Regions from separate parts of the Homo sapiens genome. Here region 2 is reported to be linked to region 1. Evidence: microRNA targets listed by miRTarBase, many of them from high-throughput screens and not tested one by one. Region 1 holds a microRNA gene; the other region holds the end of a gene's coding sequence.
Evidence for each region. Region 1 holds the annotated microRNA hsa-miR-6764-3p (UCUCUGGUCUUUCCUUGACAG, at 1,935-1,955, opposite strand). A microRNA usually pairs through its seed, bases 2 to 8, with sites in the 3' UTR of a target mRNA and lowers its output. Matches are read on the target gene's strand: a 7mer-m8 pairs with bases 2 to 8, a 7mer-A1 pairs with bases 2 to 7 and ends in A, and an 8mer does both.

Region 1 (3,000 bases):
CTCTAAGACAATGGGCTATGTGTTTCACCTGATGGGGTCCCTGGCCATTTGTAAATAAATCTCGGATATTAGCTAGTTTGTCATTTATCTTGCAGTCAAGCATACACAAAACAGAAAGACACACAGTATGTTTGCACTTTGAATAAATGAGATTTTGCTGTATCATGGCAGTTTATAAAGTATTCTCAAGTCTGTTATTTGACCTAAGATCCAACATTATAATCGTACATTTAAGAGGTTACAATGTGAGAGGTACTCATTGAGCAGAATTTTCTAATAATCTAATCACCTTGCCGATTTGCACCCAGTGTCCATTTAGAAACATGAAATTAAGCTACTGGCACTCAATTGCCACATTGCTAGCATTTAATAAGGACTCCACTAGATGGAGGAACAAGGGCTCTCAAACCAAATAACCAACGACCACAAGCATTTCCTGTCAGACAAGCCAAGGTCCTGCTGGAGCTGCCTCTGAAGGCAGCCGGCTGATGGACAGGCCTGGTCTTCCCTCTGTGTGCCCCACTGCCAGGTGGCACCTTACCCTGCGCAGGCGCTCAGCCTGCGCGGTGGTACAGATGCTTCACTCACACTTGCCGGGGGCTAAAATCACAGCCTATGACCAACCTGGCCTGGGGTGTTCTGAGGTAGTTCCTGAACTCGGGATGCCTGTTACCTACTCTCTTTCAGAAGTCAGGACATGTAGGAAGTATTAAAATATCCATGCATCGCTTTCATCAATAATCACTGTAATTGAGTGCAAAATAAAGGAAACTTGAGTTGCTTTATTTAGCTTCCAATTTCTGGGAGGCTCAAGAATTATAAGTATTCTGGACAACAAAAGAAAATAAGACTGTGCTTACAGATCTTGTTCTGCCATATTCTTGCTTTAGGATTGCTATTTTATTGTTGCCCTTTCTGTTACATGGGATGTACACATCAGGTGTTAAAAGGTACAATACATTCTACAACTGAGCACCACTTTCTGTAACTGAACAGGCAAAGAAATTACACTGAACATCAGCATCTGGCAGTATTTTTTTGGAAAAAAAAAGTGACTAAAATGGGTTTAAATTGATTAACACTATTAAATCACATCTAATATTTGATACTACATGATTCAATACAGCTATACGATACAATTATACAAAATGTGTTAACATCAAAGAATACAACCAAAATTAAGATAGCAAACAAAACCTATATAACTTTTTTTTTTTTACAGGAAAATACTTTTGAAGTATGCATGTAACTGCCCATTCTTTTAAAGAAAATCTACTGCAAGCAAAGTTATCAACCTCCAGAAAAATCACACGTAGCATTACTAAGCATATCCCCAAAAAAGTGTACAATATGCACACTTGGAAAATACAAAATTAAAAAAATTGTAAGCAACAGGTGAGCTTCATATTTATAAGAATGTGAAAAGAAGTCCCATTTTTAGCACTGTTGTATAAAGAATTGTCTTTTGATGCGAAGTTCATGAATTGTCCTCCTGTTGGGACCACACTTTACAAAAACACTGTGTTTTTGAAACGAGATTACAGAGCAAGATAGAGCATCTTAGCAATGTCATCTTAGTAAAGTTTTTTTTTTTTAATTTTTACTACTTTATCAAAACATGTCCCTTAGGTGTGTAGGATTCATTTTTAAAATTCTTCCTAGAAATAATATACAAAGGAGAGGCATATTTATTCCCAATCACACTTCTGGAAGATGCTTCCCGTGGTCGAGAAGGGTCTTCTCTCTTCTTTTCACTGGTTGTTTTTGGCCTTAGCATGTGTTAAGATGTGAGATTTCAGGTTAGTTGACTGAGCAAACTTCTTATTACAACCATCGAAGGGGCACACATAGGGCCTGTCTCCGGTATGGATTCGCACATGTGTGCGCAAATTGAAGTCCAGTGAAAAGCGTTTCCCACAGCCTTCGAACGTGCACTGTCAAGGAAAGACCAGAGATCAACCCACTCAGCAACTCTGACCAGACCCTGGGAGTCAGGAGCTCACTGCTTTGCTAGAGAACAGCCTATTTATTTTACCAAACACTTTTCATTCCTGCCCTGGGTGAACTTTGTGGATATAGTCTAGAATCAGCAGGCAGGTTGGACAACCCCGAAAACCCAAGGAGAGCCCTCACGAACTGTTTAAAACACTTGGCAAAATGGCAAGTCTTCCTAAATGCAGGCTAGAGTCCTAGTGCTGCTGTAAACATTTCCAACAGTAAAATACAAATGATTAAGGGTTCTGGTGTCAGTTGTCAAAAAAGAACCACGTTAGATTTACTAGCTGCACTGCTAGTTCTTTCACTTATTTATGGGCTAAAGTATTACCTATACTTACACTCTAGAAACTTTATCAGTTAGTAATTATACTATTAACTACCAAAAATAAATTACTTCAATCCTGTAATGAATGAAGTAGAAATTGAGTTTTAGGTATGCTCTTCAATCCTGTTCTCCTCCTGCCATAAAGTGTACTCCATCAACACCAATACATTGCGTACCCAGTACCACAGAGTATAGACAAGGATGTCCAGAGCCCCGGCAACCCTTCTAAGCGACTCCCCAGGAGAAGTTTTGTTTCTCACCAAGGAGTAATAAGACCCTGAGTCTCTGGGCTGGCGCCTCCTGCCTCATCACCACACCACCTACACTTGCAGTGTTCAGACAGGCAAGGCAGTGTGGGGAAGAGAGGGAACTGGCTCTACCTGAAAGGGCTTCTCTCCAGTATGAACCAGTTGGTGTCGTTTTAGTTTTGAACTCTCAACAAAAGCTTTGCCACATTCTGCACAGACGTGGACTCTGGGACCGTGGGTGTGCAGATGTTTTCTCATGGCCGAGTTATCCCTGAACATCTTTGTGCAGCCCTTAAAACAGAGAAAGCAGCTTAGAAGTTCACATTGCAAACTGTTAGAAAGGATTCAACCATTTAACAGCCTTTACTGACATATTAAAACAAAACCACCTCCCCAACCCCCCATTTTAATTTTACTTAGTATTACGGT
Region 2 (3,000 bases), not on the chromosome of region 1:
ATCATATTGTCACCGAGTATTATTTCTTTTTCTCTTTAATTCACATCTGTCAATTATTTTGGTATTCTTCTTGCTCTGGTTATGTATTCCAATCCAGTGTTTGGGGTACAGAGACCTCTTCTTTCTTACCTGAGACACACTTTGGGGTTGTAGAAGAAAATGAATTAAGCAATTCACAGTAAGCTTCAGTTTGGGAGGAGTGGAACAGTGTGGGCTCTAGAGGAATTCAGACCAGCAGTCTAGTTCCAGCCCTATCACTTACTAGCTGTGTGAACTTGGGCACATTAATAAACTCTATGAGCCTCAGGCTCTACATCTGTGAAATGAGCTTGATAAGCCTTGTCTTGTAGGACTGGTGGAATGTGGTGAAAGTGTGCAAAGCCCTGGTGTGCATTGAGACTTTAAACAATACTTGTTATTACTAAGATTATTTCAACTACAGAAGAAATCATCCACCCTGCTGATTTTCTTTAAGTCCAAGAGATAACAAAGAATATACAGCATTCTAAGACATGGAACAATAAAATCAGCCCAAAACGCAGCTTACAAAGAAACTCTAAATAACTTTTCCATATTAAATCATATTTTGAGTGTGGAGTTGTCTTTCTCAGCTGAAAGCAACTCAAACCTTCTAGGCTTTGGTTCAAGGACCAACTCTGACCTTTCATCCAAACCAGTCTTATTTTCATTCATTTTACCACCATCAAAAATCTAGATCTCCCTTAGAATTTGCAAAAACACATGAAAGGAAAAAAAATTCCTTTTAATGGAATGGGTTCTGGCTCCCCAGCTGATAGCAGAGTATTAGCCCAGTGGCTTATGAGTTTCCAGTCTTAAAGGAGTATCACCTTTATTTCTCAGAAACACCCTGGGGACTACGCTCATAAAACACCTAGTTTGTGTACTGGATTCACTTCACTTGCACTGGGACAAGAGCACCGGCCACTTTCAATCCCTGCTCCAGGCAAAGATCCCCTCTGGTTTTTCCACAATCCCAAAGTAACTGTTAAAGGCAATTTTTCATTCCAGTCTCCATCTCTCAAGTGTGAGATCCACCATCTGAGTGTGTGACCCCTGCTCAGTGCGCCCCATATAGGCACTATGCCAGGACATAAAATTACCTCCTATTGCAGTATGTTCAGTTTCCCGAAGTCTCAGTTACCTTGCTTAGGACATTTACACTAGATTCCACTGCTGGTAATACCCCCACCTTCTTTTTTATCCCCTTTTCACCTGTCTTTAGGTCTTAAGGAGTATCTCATTACCTTCGTTATATGATAGCTGCTGTTGGATTCTAAAATTCTGTGGGCAGGGATTGGGGTTTTTTTGTTGTTTGTTTGTTTTTTGTTTTCTTAGCTTATCCGGTACTAGCCAGGAGCCCTCCAAAGTACAGCTGCTCAATTAATATTTGGACAATTGAAGTGTAAGTGACCAGGAAGTCAAATGTATTGCTATTTAATTTCCCCCACATTCCTGAAAAAGCTAAGCAGATCCGGGTACATATACTTCAGTTTTACAAAGAAAGACTAAAAAGAATAAAACAAAGCAAGAATTGACCACATTTTACTTTTTTTTTCTCTACTTCCTGGTCCCACCAACTTTATTGCAAGGTAATTTCCTTTTCACAAATTCCATATTCCAATGCCATATTATCTTGTTCTAGATCACAGAAAAAGACTTAAAAGATTTTTAAATTGTTTTACATAATGCAAAAATTCTCACTCTCCAACCTGATATATTTTAATAAATGAGTGATTCATGCCATTCATAAACTTAGATTCTGAAACTAAATAAATCTACAATTTAAAAAAAGAACACTGAAAAACAGGAAAAAGAAAAGATAAATCATTTTACATACAAATATGTTATACATGGTGTTCCCACCAACTCCCCTTTGGCTCTCCATTAATTAGAAGGTTAAGTGTTTTCTTAATCAAAAGTAAAGAATATACCTCAGACTTCACAAGGAGTGGGAGACACTGCTGGACACCACACTGAAACATGCCAGGCCCAGTTGCAACACTGTCTCTGGCTCTCTCTCCCTCATCTCTTAAAGTCTTCTCTTAATGGAGGGAAGACAATGGAGACACTGTCATTGACCTTGGCCCAGGCCTCCACATTCTTGAATAATCTAAGCAAACCAGGTATGTAACTTTTAAATTTATGAGCAAAAAAAGACTGAACTGAGTAAGACAAACCACGAATAAAGCAACTTTTACTTTTCTTCCCTTTCTATCTTCAGATTCTACCTATTTTACTGTGGAGTTATTTTAAATTTCTAAGGATAACCTTACTCCCATGCCGTGTTATTTTGCTCTGTATCACAAAAATTATTTCAGGATTTTCTATTTGTATTTCAAAAACAAAATTATTATCACTAAACCAACCTGATAAACAGCAATAAATGTGTGATGCATGCCATTTCTAAATTTATATTCTGAATCTAAATAAACTTTCTATTTTAAGAAACATCATGGAAAATACAACAAAGAGATAAATCAATGAGTTATTCATGCATCACAGGAACAGAGAAAGCAGCAGGTCTTTCAACCACAAAGTGAACAATTTGCCTTAGATCTCACATGGGTTGGGAAGAGCTACTGGATGTGGCCCTGGAATACGCACTAGTCATGGCTGTAGTGCCACGCCTGGCTGCAACTCTGGGCCGGGCTCCAGCTCTCTCTTCTTCATCTCTCAAAGCCTCTTCATAAAGCAGTGGGAAGTTATTGGGGGTGGTGTCATTCACCTTGGCCAAAAACTCCAGGACTTTCATCTTGCTGGTTTCTGCATGAGCTCTTGGACCCCACAGGAATTGATAGCGTGGGGGATCACTGTTGGGCACCTGCTGGTATTCCAGATATTTTTCCTGTACCAGATCTTGGGTGATGAGCTTTCGGGGTTCCCCAAAGATAAGGTGCCTCTTTCCATCATAGATCCCCAGCATATTCAGGAATTCCCAGATTTCCTCTTCACGGGCACAGTTGCCATTTAAGAAGATCA

Region 2: miRTarBase lists MAGEB4 as a target of hsa-miR-6764-3p. Seed matches in the 3' UTR shown: 7mer-A1 at 2,026-2,032.

Annotation. Positions count from the first base shown.
Region 1 is chr14:100,276,352-100,279,351 of GRCh38, reverse strand. It overlaps MIR6764 (microRNA 6764), which reads right to left and starts at 1,995; the gene lies at 1,935-1,995. YY1 (YY1 transcription factor) reads right to left here. Exons shown (of 5, transcript NM_003403.5): 4 at 2,704-2,862; 5 at 1-1,934. The coding sequence ends at 1,752. It also overlaps a transcript of SLC25A29 not described here. RefSeq lists an enhancer at 39-1,019.
Region 2 is chrX:30,242,755-30,245,754 of GRCh38, reverse strand. MAGEB4 (MAGE family member B4) reads right to left here. Exons shown (of 1, transcript NM_002367.4): 1 at 1,568-3,000. The coding sequence ends at 2,579. It also overlaps a transcript of MAGEB1 not described here. Among named protein-coding and RNA genes, the nearest start is that of MAGEB4, 2.3 kb to the right of the region's middle.